7 linked regions of the Homo sapiens genome follow. The protein of the gene in region 5 purifies or fractionates together with the protein of the main gene of each other region. This does not show direct contact. Each region holds a gene or a part of one and is shown on either strand. Other genes may lie near its edges. The genes, in order: OAS1, RSU1, PITPNA, MMAB, HADH, BPHL and OSBPL11.

Region 1 (4,079 bases), on a different chromosome or scaffold from region 5:
TCCGTGTCCCTCTGTGAGTTCACTGTGGTGTTTTGAGGTGCCTTCATATACAGCTGGGAAATTCATAGTTTTGACTGATTGACTGATTGATTGAGACAGGGTCTTGCTCTTGCTCTGTGCCTAGGATGGAGTGCAGTGGTACATTCGTGGCTCACTGACACCTCGAATCCTTGGCTGGCCTCATGTGATCGTTCAGTCTCAGCGTCCTGAATAACTGCGACCACAGGCATGTACCACCACACTTGGCTAATGTTTTAAAATTTTTAGTAGAGATGAGGTTTCACTTTGCTGCCCAGGCTGGTCTTGAACTCCTGGGCTCAAGCGACCCTCCTGCCTCAGCCTCCAAAAGTGTTGGAATTACAAGCATGAGCCACCACACTTGGCTGGAAGTTCCTATTTTTGAACACCTATTACTCATCAGAGCTGAATGTAGATGATCATTTATCACTTAAAATAATGATATGATACAGGTAGTGTGGTTTTACCAATTCTCCTGATGTGGCAAGGGAGCCTCTGAGAGGTTACACTTCCTGTCCAAATGTTCCTGCAAATTATAAATATCTATCTCCCAACGTGCTGCATACGTTTGATGAGATCTCATGTTGGGACAAAGATGAGAGTAACATGAACTTTAAGCCACATCTTTGCTGCCTGATTTTAGAAAGATAAAATTCACACATTTTGCCTTAAACAGAACCAGTAAGCCTTGCAGATGTTCTGTAAGAAATGTCTTTGTCCCCACATTATGCCAATTTGCTGTTTAATGTCTCTCCTGTGATAGATCATGACCGTATTCATTCTTGCCCCGGGACAGATCCTAAGATCTCCTCCCACCCTGCTTTAGAGAGATGCCCTGTTGGGGCAAAAAGCTCTCAAACTGTGGGAGATTTCTGCTCAGAAATGGGAAGAGGGAGAAAAAGAAGCTGGGAGCTCTCACCCAGGGCATCAAAGGCAGGCAGCACATCGAACTCCACCCCCTCCCCGAGCTGGAGCGAACTCAGTACGAAGCTGAGCGCACGGGGGTTGCCCCAGCGTGGAGCCTGGACCTCAAACTTCACGGAAAATGCTCTCTCTCTTTGACAGGCTTCCAGCTGTCTCCTAATTTCCTGGATGAACTCTCCCCGGCGATTTAACTGATCCTGAAAAGTGGTGAGAGGACTGAGGAAGACAACCAGGTCAGCGTCAGATCGGCCTCTGAGGGTGGTGCCCTTGCCTGAGGAGCCACCCTGAAAAAGACGACAAAAATAATAATTGATGCTTAGTGAGGCAAACCTCCCTAAATAAAATGACAGGAGCAATCACTAACATTATGGAGCACTAGCCACTGTTCTGAAGGCATTGCATGTCTTAAACTCCTATAATGCTCACAATGATGCTATGATTTGGATGCCATTATCATTAGTTCCCATTTTACAGATGGGAAAATGGATGCTCAGTGAGATAATATATCAGCCCCATCACCCAGCTAGTAGGTGGCAAATACAATTCAAACCTGGGGGCCTTCTTCCAGGATCTGTGTTCTTTTCCCATTGTCCTTTACGATGCCCAGGACTAGCTTATGCTGGGTGGTTCACACTTACTATTTTACTTAATCTACACGGCCCTATGAGGTATTGAGGGAAAGTAGAGGAAAAATCAGTTAGGTAAATGGTCAAGGCTGGGCCCTGGAGGAGCGGCCTGCCTGAAACTGGCGCAGGGAGTGGGACTTACCTAAAACAAATCCACAGTTATACATACAAGAGAAGCAGCGCTTTATGCTTGCCTAGAGATATACCCACAGCTGCATAAGGTAAGGGAAGTTGCACAGCTTTACTGATAAAAAGTTTCTCAAACAGTTACAGGGAGGAGAGTGGTTTCTTATAAAAGTTTTTTGCATTCAGCTGCAATCTGGCAATCCACTCAGACTTCCCTCTCCACAGTGGAGACAGCTTTCTTCTTTTGCTTACTGAACTTTTGCTCCAAGCTCACGTTTGTGTCCATGTTCCTTAATTTTCTTGGATGCAGGACAAAGAACCTTGGGTACTAATTCAGTGAGAAGCTGCTACATTAAGGTGCACTGGCAAGACTGCAACAGTATTGGGGATTATGGCTGAGGAAATTGGAACACAGAGTAGTTAAGTGACTTGCTCAAGGTCTTGCAGCCAGCAGGTGCTATTTGCTTTCAAAACATATGATTCTTCACTGCAGAAATGGTGAGCCCCTAGCCTGGCCACGAATTAGCAAACTGTTTACCAGAGCTGGGATTCAGTTCCCTATTTCTGAAATGGGCATCGCCCAGGACAGTGGTTCATAAACTTCAGCGGGAAGTAGGGGGGAGGGTCACTTGTTAATAATAGGGATGTAGGATTTCACCCCAGAATCTATTTTAACATGCTGTGTGGATAAATAAGAAACCACCATCCCAGAAGATCTCAGCTCTCTGTACTCACATTTGCACCCTGGGTTCTAGGTTTTTGCTTCTCTCTCTCTCTCTCTCTCATTCTCAATCTCAACTCTTGCACATTCAGCCACCCCTCCCCTGGCCAGGCAGGCCTGGACTCACCTTTACCACCTTGGACACACACACAGGGTAGGAGCTACCTCGGAAGCACCTTTCCTTCAGGAACCCACAGATGATGTCAATGGCATGGTTGATTTGCATGCGGAAACACGTGTCTGGCAAGAGATAGTCTTCAATGAACTTGTCCAGAGATTTGGCTGGGGTATTTCTGAGATCCATCATTGACAGGAGAGAGAGTGGCAACAGAACTGCCTCCCAGACCTGTTTGCTTTTATCTCTTCTGCTGACTGAGCTTGGACTGCTGTTGGTTTCGTTTCCTCAGAAGGGAGGAGCTGTCTTTGCACTTTCCTTTTGCAAATCAGACACTCCCCTGATCCCAGTGCTGAATTTCATCTGCTCACTCTTCTGCTTCCTGAAACTTACCCTTTGTCCTTTAGCCAGCAACAAGCAGCCCAGCCTTTCTCTGAACTCTGCTCTGGAAATGCATTTTAACCTCCAGCCAACATAAATCTTATTTAACAGATTTTGTGTTTCCTTCTTTATCTTTTTTTTGTTGTTGATGAAATCCTTTCACAGTTGTCTGTGGTATTTTCCAGCAATACATGCCCACTGCAAAAAGAAAAAAAGTCAGAAAAACCAGGAAGTGGAAAGATCATCTATGATTCTAACACTACAAAATTGCCTCTATAAACGTTTTGATATAGAGCTTTCCAGATTTTTTTCAAATGTTAACACACACACAAACACAGGTCTCTTTTCTTTTTGTTAAGAATGGTATTATACTATGCTTTTTTCCCTTTCAATTAGTAGATTTTTATTTTATTTTATTATTTTTTGGAGACAGGATCTTGCTTTGTTATCCAGGCTGGAGTGCAGGGGCATGATCATGACTCGTGCAACCTCAACTTCCTGGGTTCAAGGGATCCTCCTGCCCCAGCCTCCTGAATACCTGGGACTACAGGCATGCGTTACTGCACCCAGCTCATTTTTTATTTTTTGTAGAGACAAGGTCTTGCTATGTTGCCCAGGTTGGATTTTATTTCTCACAGCAGTTTTAGGCTTACAGAAATATTGAGCTGAATGTGCAGAGAGTTCCATAAGCTCTCTCTCCTGCCAATAAGTTCCTCTATTATTAACAGTACTGTGATACATTTGTTACAATTGATGAATTGATATTAATACATCATAATTAACAAAAGTCCATTTACATTAAGGTTTACATTAAGGTTCACTCTTGTGTCCTACAGTTCTATGGATTTTGCCAAACATAACATGTCATGTATCCACCATTACAGCACCATGCAGAATAGTTTTGAGATAGGAGGTGGGGCTTGACTCAGGGCCAGATTGAAGACTGGCTGGCATGAGCACCAGCACCATGAACAGTTTACTCATTCCCTGGCAATGACCCAGTTACCACCCTTCTTCTAGAAATTTCTGAATAACCTGCCCTTAATTTGCACGTATTTAAAAGTGGGTATGAATGTGACTATAGAAGTGCCCTGAGCTGCTGCTCTCCAGGCACTGCCTATGGGGTGGCCCTGCTCTGCAGGGACAGTCACAGAACTGTAACCCTGCT
Region 2 (3,500 bases), on a different chromosome or scaffold from region 5:
ATCTGTGCTGGCTGCTCACCCATGATGGATAGCGTGGGGCTGGCCACCACACATCAATGCCACATTAATAAGTACCGCTGATTAAATGCTGACAAAGTGCCCTATAATTACGGTGGATGGCATTCATTGCGCAGCGAAGCTGGCTCCGTGGCTGAGAGGATTTAACTGAACAGCAGAAGGTAATTAATCGATAATTTATGAGTAATTCTGATTAAACCAAATTAAAAGCCACCCTAAAATAAATACAGCTCAAACTTAACTCCTTTTATTGATATAACTGTGTCTCCAAGAGAGCCTGGTGGGTGTCTCAGGTCCTCTGCAGCAAGGGCATACCCGGCTCCACAGCCCGCAGTTGCTGTGAATGAGGGTTGGCACAGAGCCTGACGTCCCTGTACCAGGTGGCCCAGCTCCAGCATCCACACAAGGAATATGCACACTCTCTGGATGCTGGCATCTTGGGCTGTTTAGCATATACTGGCGTCCGGCATTTTTTTTTTTTTCCTGAGTGTCTCACTCTGTCACTCTGCTCCCCAGGCTGGAGGGCAGTGTATGATCATAGCTCACTGCAGCCTCAAACTCCTGGGCTCAAGCGATCTCATGGCTCAGCCTCCTGAGTAGCTGGACTACAGATATATGCCACCATGCCTAGCTAATTAAAAAAAATATATATATCATATATAATATCTATTATATGATATATATGATAGATAATATGATATATATGATATATATCATATATTATCTATATCATATATTATCTGTATATTATATGTATCATAGATAATATATGATACATATAGATAATATATCATATATATCATATAAAATATACTATATTATCTATTATATATCATATATATATATATTTTTTTTTTTTTGAGATGGAGTCCTATTGTGTTGCCCAGGCTGGAGTGCAGTGGTGTGATCTTGGCTCACTGCAACCTCTGCCTCCCAGGTTCAAGCAATTCTCCTGCCTCAGCCTCCTGAGTAACTGGGCTTACAGGCATGCACCACCATGCCCAGCTAATTTCATATTTTTAGTAGCAATGGGGTTTCACCATGTTGGCCAGGCTGGTCTTGAACTCTTGACTTCCAGTGATCCACCCACCTTGGCCTCCCAAAGTGCTGAGATTCAGGCGTGAGCCACCATGCCCCAACAAAAAAATTATTTTAATAGACATGGGGTCTCACTAGGTTGCCCAGGCTGGTGTTACACTCCTGGCCCCAAGCAATCCTCCTGCCTTGGCCTCCCAAAGTGGGATTACAGGGATGAGCCACTGTGCCTGGCGTCCAATACTAGTGTTCTTGATGACATCTCCACCATGGCTGACAGGCAGAGGGGAAGGGCTGGCAGATGGAACTGCCCAGTTGATTTTGTGATCCAGGAAAGCTGGACACTATGGTTTTGAAAGGCCATACTGTATTCTAACTATTCCAGTCTTCCAAGTGTTGCCTTGGAGGCGGTACAAGCAGGTTCCATCGGCGGTCACTCTCACGGAGTGTAGAACACAGGGTTCAGAGCTGGCCAGAGACAGACCTACGAGCCGGAGCGTGCACATCCAGCCAGGTGCTGGGATTGCACTCCAGGAAAAGGGGAGGCCATTCTTTTGCATCAAGAAGTTTCCATATGTCCTAGACAGAGAACATAAGAGCCTGCAAATTGGCTTTCCACATCTCTAGGAATTAGTTTGGAGGCCTTTTTGCTTGTGTAATGGAGACAGTAGCCCTGTCCTGACCAGCCCGGCTGTGCCTCCTCTGAAGCCACAGAAGAAGAAACAACTCCTTAAGAGAATCTGAACTTCGGGAGGGTAAGGCAGGCAGATCACGAGGTCAAGAGATGGAGACCATCCTGGCCAACATGGTGAAACCCCATCTCTACTAAAAAAAAGAAAAAATTAGCTGCGCATAGTGGTGCATGCCTGTAGTCCCAGCTACTCAGGAGGCTGAGGCAGCAGAATTACTTGAACCTGGGAGGCAGAGGGTGCAGTGAGCTAAGATCACACCACTGCACTCCAGCCTGGCAACAGAGTGAGACTCTGTCTCAGAAAAAAAAAAATCTGCTCCATGAAAGCGCATTTTTCAACCTATAGGGGCTCCCCCAACCTACACTTTTAAAAGGGTCACGGGTCCCCCTGAAGACGAGGCCATGGGCACCTGGGGGTCCTGGGTCCTGTGTCCCAGGTGGGAGACCACTGGTTTAGATAGGGAGTAAAGTTCAGCGGGTCCAACCTTGTCTCTGTTGCTGCCCCCAATTTCCAAAGATACCTGTGTTCAAGTCCTGAAACCTGGGAGTATGTTACCTTACATGACAAAAGGGGCTCTGCAGGTGTCGAAGTTAAGGACCACCCTGCATTAGCCATGTGGACTCAACCCGTGTTCCTCCTCCTCGGCATCTCTCCCAGACACAACAGATAGGCAGAGGAAATGCTCAAAGTAGATCCCTCCATTCTATTCCTCATCCTCCAAGCTCCGAAACATGCGTACTCCTCTAACAGCACCTGCCCTTGTCCTCAGATGTTGATCTACTCAGGGCCACTGACTCAATGCTCAAGGGCTTAGCACTGCAGAGTAATAAACCCTGGAGGCATCAGGTCTCCAAGCTCCCCTCACCTGGCAGGAAGCAAGGGTCTGACTCTGTGTCTTCACACAGGCACCTACGGCCTAGGTAGCTTCAGCTACACACACAGCTTCCTTCCAGCCTCAGAGATCTTTCCTCTGTTTCCCAAACCCCTTATCCGCACAGAGCAAAAAAATACGTATGTACATTTTTATTCAAAGATAGTTTCAAACTTTAAGGATTATTATTATTATTTTTTCAGATGGAGTCTTGCTCTGTCACCCAGGCTGGAGTGCAGTGGCAGTATCTCAGTTCACTGCAGCTTCTGCCTCCCGAGTTCAAGTGATTCTCGTGCCTCAGTCTCCCAAGTAGCTGGAATTACAAGTGTGTACCACCATGCCTGCCTAATTTTTGTATTTTTAGTAGAGAGGGGGTTTCGCCACGTTGGACATGCTGGTCTCAAACTCCTGACCTCAAACGATCCACCCACCTTGGAAAGGCTGGGATTACAGGCGTGAGCCACGCACCTGGCCTCCAAACTGTAAGGATTCTAAAAGTTGACAGAAAGATGACTCCACTGTTCATGCCCATGGAAACCTAGCAATACCCGAGTGTAAGGAAAGAGTCTTGGCAATGATAAGAGGTCAGCAGAGGGAGAGGAGCAGTAGGAATTGAGAGGAATTGACAAGGCCCTGCTTCGAGTCAAGTGTTGAATGCGGGAAGGGCTGAGGTGGGTGTTCAGCTTGGCCCTGACGATGGGGATCCAGGCAAGCGATTTCAGAAGGGGTTGCAAAAGCTGCAGGGCTCTTCTCCTTTTTCGGAGCGAACTGGAATGTTCCACTGTTTCAGTCTCTGCCTTTTTATATTCAGATCCCACTGTGTGTGTCTGAACATCCTGGGGCTGCAGAACAAGTCACTACAAAGGGCCAGGTGGGAGCCAGTG
Region 3 (3,500 bases), on a different chromosome or scaffold from region 5:
TGCTGAGTTTTAAAACTACAAAATATAACTTTGATGAAACATATATTTTTAGATAGACAAAAAAATAAAAAGGCAAGCCACATCAAGCGTAGTCAGCACACAAAGGTCCTGCACAGTTGCTGAAGAGACCACAACATGTACCACAATGAGGTGGACTTGCTTTCTCTCCCACTGCAGATGAGTTTTAAAATTCTAATTCCAAAGAGAGTTTCTTCTATTTGCAGTTATCCTGGAGGACAGTGATCACCTAAGCTTTTGGCATGATTCTCCATGGAATGGAGAAAGATTTTCTTTTCTTTTTCTTTTTTTCCTTGAGACGGAGTCTTGCTCTGTCGCCCAGGCTGGAGTGCAATGGCATGATCTCTGCTCACTGCAACCTCTGCCTCCTGGGTTCAAGCGATTCTCCTGCCTCAGCCTCCTGAGCAGCTGGGATTACAGGTGTCCGCCACCACGCCTGGCTAATTTTTTTTATTTTTAGTAGAGACAGGGTTTCACCATGTTGGCCAAGTTGGTCTCAGACTCCTGACCTCGTGATCTGCCCACCTTAGCCTCCCAAAGTGCTGGGATTACAGGTGTGAGCCACCGTGCCTGGCCGAGAAAGATTTTCAAAAGGGTCTGAGAGATTAAAAAATAACTCTCTAACACTGAGGGCTCTCAAAGTTTGGATCTGAACAAAGCAGATCCAGTAGATCCTCTGGAGAGTTCTTCTAGCTCCAAGAATTTGAGTTCTACCCGAAGGAATGAAAGGTGGACAGCAAATACTTCCACGAACCCCAACATACGTCATGCTGGCCTTTGTCAGGCAGTGGATGGCTGAAGCTCCAGGCTAAAACTCCAATGAAAGTCTCCATGTTTCCTCATTTGTTAACATTTTCCCTTTCTTTTTGTCAGGACTAGGGTGACCAAAAGCCTCAGGCTTCTCTTACACAGTCACAATCACCAGACCCCTGGACACTGAGGTCTACCCCTTCCTAAAGATCCTTAGCGAAAGAATCAGGGACTGTGCCCCAATGAAATCCTGCCACTTCCCTGCTAAATGTAGCTAAATGAATAACCAAAACATCTGTCTTCAAGAGGAACCAACTCAGTGCACCACTTACCAGTGAGTCAGCCCAGGAAAAGTGTCATTCTGGATGGTAAAAACAGTTCCCTGCGGGGTTCCAGAGGAAGAACTTCTGGACCCAATTTTCGCCCTAGACCAGCATGGTGAAGCAGACACCGTCCGTGCAGCATGGGCAGCATGGGCGCCCAAGCCTGGCTCTCACCTGAGGCCCTGCAGGAGAGCTGAGTGGGCTGTTGCAAAGCAATGCCTCTACTGGATACCCAAACTCCATGCCAACCCCACCTGGGGCAAGGAGGGAGAAGTGATGGCAGTTCTTATGAAACAGAGCTTCCTGCCTTATCATATTTTTAGCTCCAAGATGGCAGGAGGGCCCAAAATTGCATTTAGAGGGAGGAGTACAGGGGAGTGATTAAGAGCTGTGGTTCCAGGGCCAGAGAGTCCTGGGCTCTTACTCTGACCATATCACCTGCAAGACGGTGTGACCCAGAGCACCGCAGCATTGAGCTCTCAGAGCCTCCACTTCCTCATCTGAGGGTAGGGAGAGCAGCAGCGCCTCCTCATGGGGTATCGTGAAGACTGCAGTAGGTAAAGGCCCTCAGAATGGTAGACGGCACACAGTGAGTGCTTGAATGTTACTAACTGACAATCTCCTCTGAGTGGGCCTCTCAAGGAAGCATCAGCATCTCCAAATGAGGCATGAGAAGTGCTGGGTCTTTAGGCTCCTAAGGAACAGGGAACCCTCCTTCTGCGATCCACGCCAAGACCAAAAAAAGAAAAGCAAAAGCTCTCAACTCTGATAGCTCAAAATGACCGTAGACAGCCGCCAGCTGTCAGCTCCTGCGTGCGCTGTGGCTGTCCTCTGTGGGTAATGTGCATGGTATTCACAGGTCAGCCCAGCCTGCCTCCTCCCAGGGTCACCTCCAGCTCTGCAGCCCCGCACGCTCTTTCCCACCAGGCTCTGAAGCATCGCTGTAGCAGCTGTATTACCCACTTGGCATTCGGCACATACTGCCATTTTTGTCTCTGTGGGTATGCCAAGACTTCAACTCAACTGTCAATTCAAGAGCACAGGCTGTTTTCTTCCGTATAGTGCCCACGTACTGCCCAGGATACCGTCCCTGTAGCAGACACTGACGTGTTCCCAGAACTACAGGATGGTGCTCTCGGTGAAGCGCCCCAGCAAAACAGTCTCCTTAATCTTCGTTTGTTTATCTAATTGAGAGCCCCCAGAGCCCCCACTTACTTCATCCAGCTGTCTCTTCGTCTCTTCTTCCATCCTTCGAATGTCGTCCATGGTCAGGTCAACCCACTTATCGAGCCAACAGAACAGCTGCCTGTGGAAGTTTGTAAACAGACGCCTCTCTTGCTATAGAAAGGAGGGAACCACGTTAGAACGCAGAAGGCAAAGGCTGCTGCCACAGCCCTTCTCTCCATGCACTCCACACGAATACCCACACTAGACTGGGGACGGGCGGACAGGAGGAGGAGTAATGCCCGGCTGGTTATCTGGACCAGCCATGGGTCAATGACCTTTGCCTTCACGTGTCTAACAGGTATGGCTTCACATAGGAGGGAGCCCCCAAGAAAGAAGGATGCCTACCTCACACTAGGCCCTCTGCCCAAAGCACCAGCAAGACAGCAGCCCATGAACTCCTAGGCAAGCCAAGGGCCCCAAACCACTGCCACATTTCTTCCTGTCTCTGGTGTCTAATGCCAGATTAAAACTGGCCAGCAGCTATGAAATATGGCCCAAGTGAGGCTCAAACATGTCGGAGGATTAAAAGGCTCTAAAACTCCTTAGACCTGCCCAGCAGAGTAATTCAGGGCACCGGCCAACCTGGCTCCCAGCACCTCTTGCCTTTCAGCTGCAAGAAAAGAAAGACTGAGTTTTATCTGTAGGTCAGTCATAGCAAGTCCCTTCCTGTGGCCTTCTTTTGCCTCAGTTTCCTTCCCTGTCACATGTGGTGTCCCTGGAAGGACAGCATTAAACCGTAAGACATTTCAGTGCAAGGGAAGGTGGGCAGCTGGGAAGCCGCCAAACTGTGAGGTATGCTCATGTTGGCAACCCTGTCATGCAGGCCACATGGGCTGGGCCATCTTCTTCACTGGGCCAAACACCCCCCACCGCACACACACGCAGTCACTGGGAAGGCCTCAGCCGAGCTACTTACCTTATGGATGAAGTTCTCCACCACCCCCCACCGCACACACACGCAGTCACTGGGAAGGCCTCAGCCGAGCTACTCACCTTATGGATGAAGTTCTCCACCACCCCCCCACAACACACACACGCAGTCACTGGGAAGGCCTCAGCCGAGCTACTTACCTTATGGATGAAGTTCTCCACTTTGTTCTGCAGGCCCCACCACTTGAACTTGACGGTCACCAGTTTGTATGCACACATATATGGGCAGTCCTTCTGGTTTACAAGCTCTTG
Region 4 (3,500 bases), on a different chromosome or scaffold from region 5:
GGACCTATCAGCTGCTCCGCCATGCCTGTTTTCGGGGCCTTTGGGTTGTTTCCAGTTTCTTGCTATTATGAGCACTGCTGATGGATGGCTTTGTACAAATGACAGTTTTTTCTTTTGAAGCCAAAGCTTGTTCTGTTACCTGGGATCTCTAAGGAGCTATCTGGGCCCGAGAGCCTTTCATAAAGAACAAAACCTTAGTGGTGTGGGACCGTGGAAGAGCTCAGGCTTGGCCCAGACAGACGTGGACTCCAATCTGGATTCTGCTATCAACCATGTGGGGGACCGTGACCATGGTGTCATTTCTCTGAGCCACAGCTTCCTGACTCCTGTAAAACAGAGGCCACCACCACCTCTCTCCCAGGGCTATCAACAAGGAGTAAATGAAATTATGAACATAAAGTGCCAGTCCATTGGATCAAAGTAGGGCTTGCTTTCTCTTCTCTGTAAAGCTGGCTGGCAGCCTGGTCTCTGAGTGGTGTAGATAGAGACTTTGCTCATTTTCTTCTAAAGATTCCTTGAAAAGGCTGTCAGTAGCTTTGGAGGAGGTGGTGGCTAGTCTGCTGACAACGTCCACCTGGGCTCCCCACAGCCATGCAGGCCTTTCAGGAGCCTTATGCACCCAGCAGCCAGCAGGGTCCTTTCATGTCTACCCCTGTCCCCAAGATGGCTGAGGCTGAGAACCCAGCAATAACTTCCTGCTGTTCTCAGAATACAGGGCTCACAAACAAGGTGCAATTGTGTTGTCTGATAGTCTATTTGGTCACATGTCACTGTCTCCACTTCACAACATGGTGCTCTGAGGACAGGGACTTGGTCTGTCCTGGTCCCCGTCTGGCACAGTGGAGGGGCCCAGACAAGGTCTGTTGATGTGTGGCTGGATGGCTCAGAGATGGCCCTGCTGTACCTGCCTCCTGCCCGCTGTGCAGAGGCCCCTCTCCCTCTCCCCATCTCCGTCCTCCTCTCCCTCTCCCTCCCCCCTCCCCCTTGTTCCTCTCCCTCTCCCTTGGGCCCTCTCCCTCTCTCCAGCCCTCTTACCGTCTCTCGGCCCGGCGGCACACGGCCCGGCAGAAATGCAGCGCCGAGCTGATCTTGCCTCCCGACTGAAAGGAGAAAGGGACATTGCCTGAGCAGGGTGGGAAAGGTGTGCCCACTGCGGACAGGAGCTCCTCTGAAGTCCAGCCCTGCCCCCCAAACCGGGCAGTGTTCTGCCTCCAGGAGCCCTGCCACGGCACACCCACCGGGCACGCTGCTCCAGAGTGGGCAGGGCTGGGAGGGACCGGTGAGGACCTGGAGGGACTTGGGGAACTGGAGGACAGCGTCTGTCACTGTGAAAAGAGGGATTTATTCAGAGCCCATGTGTGTCTGTCACTGAACCTGCCTGCAGCCGCCCCCGGTTAAGCCTGCCCAGTACCTACAGGCAGGATGAAGGCCGTGAGTGGTGGGAGCTGGCTGGTGTACTTGTCGATCCACTGCTCCAGCTCCAGGATGGGCCCCGCCTTGAACGTGGTATACTCTGAGGAGCCAAGGAGCAGAGGGAACTGCCATGAGGCCATCACCCACCAGACCATGGCGGGAACCACCCCCGCCGCCCTTCCACCTGGGTGTCCCGCAGACTGCTTCCACTGGCTCAGAAGGTACCTTCCCTCCCAGGAGCTACGAGCAAGGCTAACTGACCCACCCGTGGGTCCCTGGGGGCCTGGGATCCCAGATGGTGACCCTAGGAGAGTCCCCTGACCCTAGGGCCCTCTGAACACCCACAGGAGTTTGAGAATTACTTAAGTGAGCCTCCCGGGCCGAGGAGCATGGTGTCGCCAGGGCCGAGCCGACGTCCTGCAATGTGCACTGGATCTGGGGGGCGACAGAAAGTGACAGTCAAGATCTATGTGAGATGGGCTGGACAGAGACAATGTGCAGAGGCGCCACCTAATACGCCGGCAAAGCCTGTGCCAGCTAGCTCATGAAGGGCTGTGATATGGTTTGGCAATGTGTCCCCATCCAAATCTCATGTTAAATTGTGATCCCCAGAGTTGGAGGTGGGGCCTGGTGGGAGGTGATTGGATCATTGGGGTAGTTTTGAATGGTTTAGCCCCAGCCCCCTAGTGCTGTCTTGTGATAGAGTTCTCATGAGATGTGGTTGTTTGAAAGTGTGTAGCACCTCCCTCTTCACACTCTCTCTCTCCTATCAGCCATGTGAAGATGTACCTGCTTCCCCTTTGCCTTCCGCCATGACTGTAGGTTTCCTGAGGCCTCCCCAGAAGCAGAAGCCTGTACAGCCCACAAAACCATGTGCAGATTAAACTTCTTTTCTTTATAAATTATCCGGTCTCAGGTAGTTCTTTATAGCAGTGCGAGAACAGACTAATACAGGCTATCAGACCTTGAACTGGCTGACATTTGAAAGCAAACTCTGAACTTTCAGCACAACATCTTCGTTGGACACCCAGCCCTGCTGAGGGGGACCTGGTGTGGCTCTTTTGCAGTCTGAGGGAGGAAAAGGCTCCCATGGGGGCAGCAGCTGGGTTAAGCAGATGACACGCATCACACACCCAGGGACAGTCAAGAGGAACCGTCTGGGCTCTGTCCACGTCTCCTGTGCACCTAGGCCCTGTGAGGTTTTCTTCTTTTCTCAACATTTGACAGCTTTGGTTTTCTAACCTGTAACAGTTGGGCCAAGAGGTCAAATGTGACAGTGCTTTCTAAACTCTAAAGGACAAGGAGCTTGGAGAATGTAGTCAGCCGAGGCGTGTGGGGATTCTGGGAGCAGGAAGCCTGGCTGGGTGAGGCCTGTGCTCTGTCCAGGTGGGGAGTGGGTTTGCTTGGAACAGAAGTGGTCTGTTAAGGTCTGCTGCAGGACTCCAGGCCCCTGCATGACAAATGTCCAACAGCTCTCATGCATGTGAAGACCACAAGTACCACCTCTGACTTTGTGCCCAGCCAGGGTCCACTCAAGCTGGATGGTGGGCTACCAGGAGGGTGAAGGTCTGCGACTTCTGACCTCTCCTAAGATGGCCACTGTGACAGCATTCAAGAAGCAGGCCATGGTGTGTGAGAGCAGAGGCTGCCCATCCAGCACTGGGCTGGAACCTTCCCAGGGCTTCTGACCAGCAGACCTTGGGCAAGCTGCTTCCCTGCTTGGGGTCTCTGCACTTTCACAGTCAAAGCGGGAGTGATAATACTACCCACTTGGTTGGCCACGTGCAGCGTGTACCCCAAGGGCTGGGGAGAAATGGCACCAGTTTGGGAATCAGATTCCAGCTCTACTGATGCCTGGCTGTGGGGGCTGGGCAAGTCAGCCTTTCTGAGGCTCAGTTTGGCTCCCTATAAGCTGTGGACATTAACTTCCACCTCACGGGTGTCTGTGAGGGTGAAATGGGTGATATGAGGAAAGCAGTGGCATTGCTGCCCGGCCTCATCCACAGGCCCTGCGAGCGGCTACCAGGCCAGGCGGGGCTCCCAGGTGAACCAGACACTGTCCCCGCCCTCACAGTGCCAAGGCTGGG
Region 5 (3,500 bases):
TTGGGATATGCTCCCTGTGCCTAGGTGCTGCCCTCAGACAGCTTCGGAGCTCAGTCTCTCACTTCCTCCAGGCCTCTGCTCAGGTGTCATACTTCTGACAGCCTCTTCTCCTCCCTGCATATATAAAAAAAGCAACTCCCTGCACTAAAGAAAAGGCCAGGACACTAGGACAAGACTCTTGCCACCCCTTACTATCTTCTTCTCCACAATTACTCATCACAACCTAACATGCTTATGTACTGGTTCATTTGTTACTGGCAGTCTCCCTGGGACAGAAATCTGACAGCATAATGGTTGCAACTCAGCTAAAGCCATTTAATGAAATCTATATTCAAGGACAGGACAATTAACCCTAGAAGCAACGCTGTAATTCCATATTCAGAGACTCACTTGAGGACTGTTTTATTTCAAGAAATAATATGAAGATACAGCACATGATAGAAAAATATCTAAATAACTCTACAAAGTCAGCCCAACTCTAAAGATCGTGTTCTCAATAATGCAGAGCAAAAGAGGCAAACTTTCAGAAACAGAGAAACAAAATACAGAGATTGGTGTGCCAAGTGACAGTTAGATGTGGAATCATGTTTTAAACTAATAATTCTTAAACTTCTTTAGAATCAAGTACTTCTGACAATCAGACACCCTTTCCATAAAAAATGCACATATAACCCAAATTCTGCGTCAACTTTAGGAGGTTCATTGGACACCCTCTCCTACCTCCCTCCAGTTAAGAGCCCCTAACTCCAGACAAGACAGCAAAGGAAAGCTTCCTCAGTGAACTCCAGATCAGCACAGCTGAGGGGCTGGGACTTGCCCAACATCTGCTTCTTTGTCTGGCTCAGCAGCACCACCTGCCAACCATTCTTAGCATGAACAACAGAGGCACTTAGCAACAACTCAGAAACAGCATTTTTACTCATCAGCAGCTGCCTATGTGCCCGCCCTACACAGCACCTTGGGACATATGAAGATGAGGAGGAGCCAGAGTGCCCCAGAAAAGAGAGTATAGTAAGGGAAAGAAAACACCTGCCATGCCACAGGGAAGACAGTGACAAGTGACCCAAGGGAGAGCCAAAGCAAGAAGAGTTGTGATGACAGAGATGATGTCCAGCTGGGAGCTCTGCAGACACTCAGGTGGGGCAACGTGGGAATGGCAGGAGTAGTTGGCGGTGATAACAGCAGGGGCAGAGGTTGGCCAGAAGGAAGGCTCTCTGGCAGAGCTTGTAGATGGCAGGAAACCAGAGAACCACTGAGCCTGTCTTGAGCAGGGGCGACAATGTGAGCAAGATGTCACATGGTGACTGGGGGGCAGGCTCATGGTGCTCCCAGGCCTGTTGCCAGCAGAGCCCTCCTGAGAAGAGCTGACCATTTGGCCCCACCATCCTGCCCACACTGGCCATTAGGAGTGGGTGCCTGGCAAGGGCAGCAGTCCACTGTCAGACACAGCCTATCCAGCCTCTGTCCCTCTGACTCACAGGAGTGACAGTGACTGGGGCATGCATCAGGCCTCAGTCACAGTGTGAACGAACAAGAGCAATAGGAAGAGTGAGGACGGAGCTGGGATACTGGGAAAGAAGGCCCAACATGGAAGCCAAAATGAGTGGACAAACAGCAGAGCAAAAGGGCGTGAGCCTCCACGAGATCCCATGGGGACTGGCAAGAAGTGTTAGTGGCAGAGGCCCGGTCATCCAGGAGGCCTGACCTACAACAGCACACACATCCTTCCAGAGAGCCTGCACCACTCAAGGCAGCATTGGCCAAACCATGTGCCTGGAACCCCAGGTGTATCAACAGTGGGGTACAGAAAATTTCTCCTTGCATGAGTTCAGAAACAGTCACAGAGCTCCTGCCGAGGCTGTGCAGGGGGTGTGTGGGCAGATGCAGTAGGCGGTGTCTCAACTTCCTGGACAATATGATACTTTCTCAGTAAGTGCAGTAGCGGGGACCAGTCAGGAAAAGACATGAGTAGCGTGAATTACTCTGCTACCTAAGGAACCTCATGAAGGCAGCCTGACTGGGATGGGGAAAAGGTGGGATGAAGAGGTGGAACAGGCATGACAGGAAGGAATCAAAAGTGATGAACAGATGTGGCAGACGAGAAGGAGCCTCCAGATGCTTGAAGCTTCAAGGTGGAACTGTATGAACGGAGATGGCACGGTGGGCATGCTCTGAGCACTCCTCTGTGTTGGCTGAGAGGAGGGAGCAGGTGGTGGGCGGGGGGACATGGTAAGAGGCCTAGGGTGTGACTGTAGTGTGCAGTAGGGAAGCAGCACCCACCCCAGGCAGGACACCCAGCAACTTCAGAAGCAGATTCTGAGAAGGTGGTGGAAAAAGAAGCAGAGGGACCAGCAATGATAGGCTGTTGAAGCCCATGCCCAGAGCAAGCTAAGAGCATGTCCTGAGGCCAGGTCCTGCTCTTCCAGCTTCAGCCCACAGGCGGCCAGGGATGGTGAGGGCTAAAGGGCATGCACCTATGCAGAAAGGGACCACAGACAAGAAGAGGGCTTTCAACTTACCATCTGATACTTGGTGCATTGGAGAATGCATCAAATGGACAGTGAGGAAAACACCATTAAAAGGTGGATCTCTCACATGCTACATTCTAAAACATTACATTTTGTTAAAAAAAAAAAAAAGACATACAACTGCCTTTCAAGGTAGGGTAAAATGCTCTGTGCTTTCTTTGAGGTGTAATTAGGCATATTTGTTGATAGATAAACCAGAACTGTTGGTTTGATCTTGGAGCAAAAGTGAGGCAATTGCTTCCATAAACCATAGAGAAAAGTTTTAATATTTAAAGCAGATTTTGAGGAAGCAAATGTGCTTTCATCTCTCTGGAAGAGCTGGTGTAAATGTTTTGTTTAAAAAATGACACTCTCAGGAGTGAGCATTTATGAATGAAGTAATTGAAAACAATTACACTTGCTTTTTATCCAGTCCTATTAAGGCTTGTTTGCCTTTGAAGCAGACATGAGAGCTACCTTTCCAGAAACCAGGGAGGGAAAGCAGGCAGGAGAATGCAGATCAATTTAGAGGCCTGGACCCTGTCCCAAATCTGATATTTCTACAGCAGAGAAAAGCATTCTTTGTCAATCAAGTACTGAGGAAAACTGTTTACACCATTCTTAAGGTTACAAAAAGTACATCATGACATCACTCAGTAAGGACAGACTACTAAAAACTGTCCTTACCACATATCGGCCTTGTCACATATTTCTAATCACCTGTCAGTCACAAGTTTTAGAACCTTAAGGAACTTTCAAGATCTCCTAGCCTAGTGATTTTTACATTATGATTATTTTTAAAAGCAGTAAACCTTTTAATCAAAAGCAGAGATCCAGGATATCAATCTGGGCCGGCCATGCAATTGCTCTGGCTGGGACTGTAGTGGGGGTGGTGGGAGTTCCAGAAACCTTTCTCAGAGGCCCACAGGGAAGCCAGGAGGCCCTGGGAAAACAGTGAAAAAGGTACCAGGGCTCAGGGTGCAGCTGAGCTCA
Region 6 (2,184 bases), on a different chromosome or scaffold from region 5:
CAACCTCCGCCTACTGGGTTCAAGTGATTCTGCCTCAGCCTCCCGAGTAGCTGGGATTATAGGCGCGCATCACCACGCCGGCTAATTTTTGTGTTTTTGGTAGAGATGGAGTTTCACCACATTGACCAGGCTGGTCTCGAACTCCTGACCTCAAGTGATCCACCTGCCTCGGCCTCCCAAAATGCTGGGATTACAGGCGTGAGCCACCGTGCCCAGTCTAGTACCTTTTTCTTAGGTGGGGCTTTCTAGAAGAAGCAGAATGAAAAAGGAAAATATTTAGTTTCTGAATAAAAAGGGGCTATTGGCAACCAGGTTTGGATGGCGTCAGAAGGAATGCCTGAAGAAGTGATATGCCATGTTGCTGCCCAGTTTCACACTGGAAGAGATCCTGTGCAAAGATCCAGCGGCCTGCTTTGGGTTCCAGTAAACACAAAAGTACGTACTGGCACTCTGCGGATTACAGACTCACTGACAACTTCATGGATTCATAGATCAAGTTTTGTTACATTGATCCAAGGTGAAGGCACGCCACAGCAGGTTACTTGTGGCCTTGTTACTGTCTGTAACTCCCTGAGTTACAGATGAAAGTTCAGCTAAAGATGAAAAGGGCTCCAGGCGGGGCAGGAAAGGTAGCATCGTGAGGCCAGCATCTCACCTATGGCATTTTGACCTAAAAGAGCTGTATCAACAGAGGTAAAGTGACCCATACATTTACCTTGGGGTTAGACAGCTTCTAGTTCCTTGGACTATCTGGAACCATGTCTCTTTCTGAAGGTGCCACATGCAGTGAGGAACCTGCCCTGGCAGAGGAACTCGTGTTCATCCTCTGAGGCCCCTTCGTTTCCAACTGAGCCATGTGCTTAGCAGTTGGGGGTTTCCTACTAATTTTTCGGAGAATGTTATTGTTTGAAAAGTGCTCTCCACAGAGCATGTGATTAGATCTTTTTGTTACTTGGGTGAGAATCTAGAGCTCCTGTCTTGCCTTGACAGCTAATATTCATGCCCATCTATTGTGGTCCTGTTTCCAAAGAGGAACACACAACAGAGTTTCTGTGCAGTGAAACCTGTGTCAGACCTAAAGGAGGCAAGGGCTGCTGAGGAGCTTGAAATGACCCTTAAAAGATATCAAGGAGAAGAGTTGTCTTCATACTCTCTTCTATCTGTCTGTCCATCTGTCTATTCATCCATTCATCCATCCAGCATTCAGAGCAGGTCTCCCATATTTTAATGAAGGGAACCTCATTTTTATTTCCCCAAGATCTAGAGATTAGGAAGAGTGCAGACAGTGCTGAACGGCTAAAAAGAAACGATTCACAGCGAGGTTCTCCTTCCTTCCTTATGGGAAACCAACAAATCATAGCCAGATAGGCTGGACTGTCTACAGAGAAAGACTTCACATGTGGCAGGCTGGGGATTCCCTGCCTCCCAGTCCAGCTTAGTGCAGATTAGGGGATGCAATTTAGCCTATACGTGACCTTCTATGACCTCGCAGCATCCTTGGCAATTCGTTCTTTCCTGTTTCCTGAAAACAAAGGCCTTGAGTGTCCCTGCAAGCCCTGTTCCTTGTGTAGGCAACTGGGATCCTATCTCTGGGGTGGGTGCAACTCATCCTTCTTTTCTGAATAGTGTTAAAGTTGAATTTAGAATGTCGTGATTGTTAGTAATAGCATTACTAATGTTCCAAGGCCCTCGGAAAGGTCCCAACAATATGTCTTCCTTTCAAGTTGATTCTCTTGGTACCCCATTCCCACCCCCAATGTGGTGGCTGAGTTGGAAGAGGCCCAGCATCTTCCAAGCACAGCTCCCTGCCCCACAGTTCCTCCCTCGCACCTACTGAGGTTCTGAGCTGTCAGCCCCCCAGTATTGAAACTCAAAAAATTAGGGAACATGATAACGCATTCTGCCCTAATATTGTCCTTTTAATGTCTAATTATCATTGTAGACAAAGTGGCTTGAACTTAGGCTTTCATCCTAGAAGCTTTACCACTTTTACTGTTTCTATACTTTTGTAGCTAATAAGTCAAATGTAGAACAAAGAGAAGGCTGCATTTGTTCAGGAAACTGTAAATCTGTCCCATTTGATCACAATCCTGTTGAAAGGAAGAAGCCTTACGAGGACAGTGTGTTTGCTACAATGCTGAGCCGTGACAGCTGCAGCAGCGGCTCCTGGAGCACAGGGCTGCT
Region 7 (3,500 bases), on a different chromosome or scaffold from region 5:
CACATATAAGTTTTGAATTACTGACAAATATGAATAGAATCATTTATTTTAATTTTTAACAGAGGTAAAATAAAGCATACTTATCCAAAGGGATAACACATAATACTGGATATTAACCTAAAGGTGAAAAGAAAGAAGGAAAAAAGTAACAGTTTTATTTTTTAATATTTGCTATTTTCTTTAATGCCTTAGTTCTGGAGAAAGGCTAAAATCTCATCATATTGACATTAACACATTTTTAAAAAGTGTCTCTCAAGTGTAATATTTAATAAAACTAGGTACTGAAAAATGTTCTGAAATTTTTCAAGTCAATGTTGTTTTCAAGTATATTAAAATGCTCAGAAGAAAAAATTCTCCATGGTTATAATTCTGATCAATCTATAAATGTACTTTTTAAAAGAGAGTTCCAACAGAGGTGGATAATAGGTAAGTTCCTCAGACACAGGCATACAGTCTTTTTGAAGAAATAGAATGCCTTGTTACCACAACCTGGTTGATTTTTTTTTTTAAACACTGATTTCAGGCACAATGGCTGAATCCACTTCTGGGTCATCTTTCTCCTCCTCTTGGTTGGTTTACAAGAGTAGTGAATACTTCAGTTATGGACAGAAAGAAAGACACAAACTCTGAAACGGAGACTTCACTTTTCACTACAAAGAAATCAAAGTCACTGAGTTCTCATTGTTGTGTGTATCTGCTGCCCCTGTGCAAAAATAGGGGATTCAAACTTAACTTTAGGAGCAAGAACTGGATAAAAGATTCATCTACTGATTCAGGTAACAAGTTTTAAGATGGTATTGCTCACATCACATGAACAGGTTGGTAAAAGGTCCACTGTGTTTCTTTACCACTTTGGTCTTGCTGCAGTATTATGGTGCCCTAGTAGGTACATTCAGGTTTAGCTAGTTTCAGTCTGCGCAATCAGGAAGCAGGTCACTCAGTGCAATGACTCCATTCTGGGAGGATTTAGGGTAAACAGAGAAGAACCTCATTTGGTCGAGTTTTAGATAGTATGTGTCACTCTGCTGGTTGTGTTGTTGGAATTATTTTCCAAAGTGGTTTATGATAAACCCAGCCATCTCCCTGAAACAAATAAAAAGATAAAGAATCATCCCTCTAATATTATCAAAATCAGTAACCAAAACTAGAAGCAACACCTTCACTGAAATGGAATTCTATTTTCACATTCAAAAACAAGTTTTTGTGAAGGAATAAAGTCTTTGTGATTAAGACATCAAACGATGCCTGTGGTTTAGCTAGGATTTAGGTGAGAAGACATGGTATGGGAGGATCTAGTTTGTGACCCATGAACATTTAATTTTGCAAGAACCATTTGTAGCAATTTTGCCAATTTCGCCAAGATGCTACAGATTGAGCCTCACTCACAGAGTTATGGGCAGCAGGTGGAGTACAGAGAAATGATCGGGAAGGTACTAACTGTTCTCCCTGTCTCCACTGGCACCCCAGAACTCATTTTTTTTCTTTCCTTTTTTTTTTCCCCCAAGACGGAGTCTTGCTCTGTCAGCCAGGCTGGAGTGCAGTGGCACAATCTTGGCTCACTGCAACCTCCGCCTCCCTGGTTTAAGCAATTCTCCTGTCTCAGCCTCCCAAGTAGCTGGGATTACAGGCACGTGCCATACCCGGCTAATTTTTGTATTTTTAGTAGAGATGGGGGTTTCACCATGTTGGCCAGGCTGGTCTGAAACTCCTGACCTCATGATCCGCCCGCCTCGGCCTCCCAAAGTGCTGGGATTACAGACGTGAGCCACCGCGCCAGGCCCCCCAGCTCATTTTTCTTTTTTTTTTTTTTGGAGACAGAGTTTCACTCTTGTTGCCCAGGCTGGAGTGCAATGGCGCAATCTTGGCTCACTGCAACCTCCGCCTCCTGGGTTCAAGCAATTCTCCTGTCTCAGCCTCCCGAGTAGCTGGGATTACAGGCATGTACCACCACACCTGGCTAATGTTGTATTTTTAGTAGAGACTGGGTTTCTCCATGTTGGTCAGGCTGGTCTCGAACTCCTGACCTCAGGTGATCCGCCTGCCTCGGCCTCGCAAAGTACTGGGATTACAGGCATGAGCCACCGAGCCCGGCCACCCCCTAGCTCATTTTTAATGATATATAGATGTTCTCACTTAGAAACTCTTCTTTCTTAGAATCTGTTCTTGGTATATCTGCCTTTTTTTTGAGACAGAGTCTTGCTATAGGTTACCCAGGCTGGTCTCAAAAACAGTTGGTATTTATATACAGCCATACTACTTTTAAAAATAAAGATGTATAAGTGATAGCAATTCAACAAAGCCTAGTAAGCTAAAGTTCTCAGCCAAGTAGATACATTTTTATCTTGAACACATGTACAGCATACCTCTTTAATAAAATATTTGGTTTTCCAAGGTGTGCCTGTTTCAGTACGATGCCTTTCTTCAGTCCTCTGACGTTCTTCCAGGGTATGCTTATGCTCTGTGGCCTTATCAATTTCAGATTCTCTCAGCGAGTCTGTCACATTTTTCCACAATCGCCTGAAATCCAAAAACCACACATTTTACAAGCATTCTTTAAAAGAGATAATTAAATAGAATCAATACCCTCAAAATTACAATAATTTTATAAAATAACGTTTCCTAAATCACATCTACAATGTCATGCTTATGAATTCCAAGAATAACGATACTGTGCTGCTGATGGTTATGTCCAGGATGCTGCTCCTTCTGCTTCTTTTTAAATTAAAAATAATTTGTATTTTTCCAGGTTATAAAAGCAGGATTTTTTGTTTTTAGAAAACTTAGAAATTAACGAGTAAAAAGAGAAGTAAATTTTCAAAGTTGAAATGTAAGCAAGACTAATTGTGCTTCTGGACATGATGAAATAATGGGGAACACATTTATTTTCCTGCCTTCATCAACCAGGAAACCAGGCAACATATAATACAATAGTGGTTTTCAGATACTGAGCAAAAGGCAGTGCAGGGCAGTGATCCTTGAGAAAGGAAACAAATGAGGGGAGTCCTATGAGTGCTCTAACTCGCTGTCCAGAGTGTTTCTAGGCCACGCACAGGGAGAGGGAAGCTTAACAAATCTCAAGCAAAAAAAAAAAAAAACAAAAAAAAACTGCCACAACACTTCTTTAGGGAAAGAACTGTTTGTTGAACAAATGGTGCTGGGACAACTGGATATACATGTGAAAAAAATGTAGTAAGTTAAACATAAAACTACCATAAACCCAGCAATTCCACTCCTGGGTATTTACCCAAGAAAAATGAAAATAAATGTCCATACAAAGACTTGTAGGAGAATGTTCACAGCAGTATTATGGATAGGCAAAATGTGATATATCCATACAGTGCAATACTATTCAGCAATAAAAAGCAATGAACCACTGATACATGCAATTAATACTTCATGGATGAACCTCAAAAACGTTATACTAAGGAAATAAGCCAGGCATAAGAGATCACACATTGTATGATTTATATGAAATATCCAGAAAAGGCAAATTTATAGAG

The links.
Region 1: the proteins of HADH (region 5) and OAS1 purify together in Homo sapiens (co-immunoprecipitation; one large-scale study listed by IntAct). This does not show direct contact.
Region 2: the proteins of HADH (region 5) and RSU1 fractionate together in Homo sapiens (co-fractionation; one large-scale study listed by BioGRID). This does not show direct contact.
Region 3: the proteins of HADH (region 5) and PITPNA fractionate together in Homo sapiens (co-fractionation; one large-scale study listed by BioGRID). This does not show direct contact.
Region 4: the proteins of HADH (region 5) and MMAB fractionate together in Homo sapiens (co-fractionation; one large-scale study listed by BioGRID). This does not show direct contact.
Region 6: the proteins of HADH (region 5) and BPHL fractionate together in Homo sapiens (co-fractionation; one large-scale study listed by BioGRID). This does not show direct contact.
Region 7: the proteins of HADH (region 5) and OSBPL11 purify together in Homo sapiens (co-immunoprecipitation; one large-scale study listed by IntAct). This does not show direct contact.

Annotation. Positions count from the first base shown.
Region 1 is NC_000012.12:112,905,683-112,909,761, reverse strand, and holds the start of OAS1 (2'-5'-oligoadenylate synthase 1), read right to left. Parts: upstream 2,801-4,079; 5' UTR 2,723-2,800; coding exon 2,543-2,722; intron 1,227-2,542; coding exon 938-1,226; intron 1-937.
Region 2 is NC_000010.11:16,593,925-16,597,424, forward strand, and holds part of RSU1 (ras suppressor protein 1), read right to left. Parts: intron 1-3,500. UniProt on the Homo sapiens protein: Potentially plays a role in the Ras signal transduction pathway. Capable of suppressing v-Ras transformation in vitro.
Region 3 is NC_000017.11:1,531,793-1,535,292, forward strand, and holds part of PITPNA (phosphatidylinositol transfer protein alpha isoform), read right to left. Parts: coding exon 3,390-3,500; intron 2,430-3,389; coding exon 2,307-2,429; intron 1-2,306. UniProt on the Homo sapiens protein: Catalyzes the transfer of phosphatidylinositol (PI) and phosphatidylcholine (PC) between membranes. Shows a preference for PI and PC containing shorter saturated or monosaturated acyl chains at the sn-1 and sn-2 positions.
Region 4 is NC_000012.12:109,560,005-109,563,504, forward strand, and holds part of MMAB (corrinoid adenosyltransferase MMAB precursor), read right to left. Parts: intron 1,849-3,500; coding exon 1,776-1,848; intron 1,514-1,775; coding exon 1,416-1,513; intron 1,326-1,415; coding exon of another isoform or gene 1,239-1,325; intron 1,101-1,238; coding exon 1,036-1,100; intron 1-1,035. UniProt on the Homo sapiens protein: Converts cob(I)alamin to adenosylcobalamin (adenosylcob(III)alamin), a coenzyme for methylmalonyl-CoA mutase, therefore participates in the final step of the vitamin B12 conversion.
Region 5 is NC_000004.12:108,027,889-108,031,388, reverse strand, and holds part of HADH (hydroxyacyl-coenzyme A dehydrogenase, mitochondrial isoform 2 precursor), read right to left. Parts: intron 3,451-3,500; exon of another isoform or gene 3,320-3,450; intron 1-3,319. UniProt on the Homo sapiens protein: Mitochondrial fatty acid beta-oxidation enzyme that catalyzes the third step of the beta-oxidation cycle for medium and short-chain 3-hydroxy fatty acyl-CoAs (C4 to C10).
Region 6 is NC_000006.12:3,149,711-3,151,894, forward strand, and holds part of BPHL (serine hydrolase BPHL isoform 1 precursor), read left to right. Parts: intron 1-312; coding exon of another isoform or gene 313-349; exon of another isoform or gene 350-434; intron 435-2,184. UniProt on the Homo sapiens protein: Specific alpha-amino acid ester serine hydrolase that prefers small, hydrophobic, and aromatic side chains and does not have a stringent requirement for the leaving group other than preferring a primary alcohol.
Region 7 is NC_000003.12:125,529,498-125,532,997, forward strand, and holds part of OSBPL11 (oxysterol-binding protein-related protein 11), read right to left. Parts: intron 2,518-3,500; coding exon 2,364-2,517; intron 1,084-2,363; coding exon 1,018-1,083; 3' UTR 1-1,017. UniProt on the Homo sapiens protein: Plays a role in regulating ADIPOQ and FABP4 levels in differentiating adipocytes and is also involved in regulation of adipocyte triglyceride storage. Weakly binds 25-hydroxycholesterol. Interacts with OSBPL9 to function as lipid transfer proteins.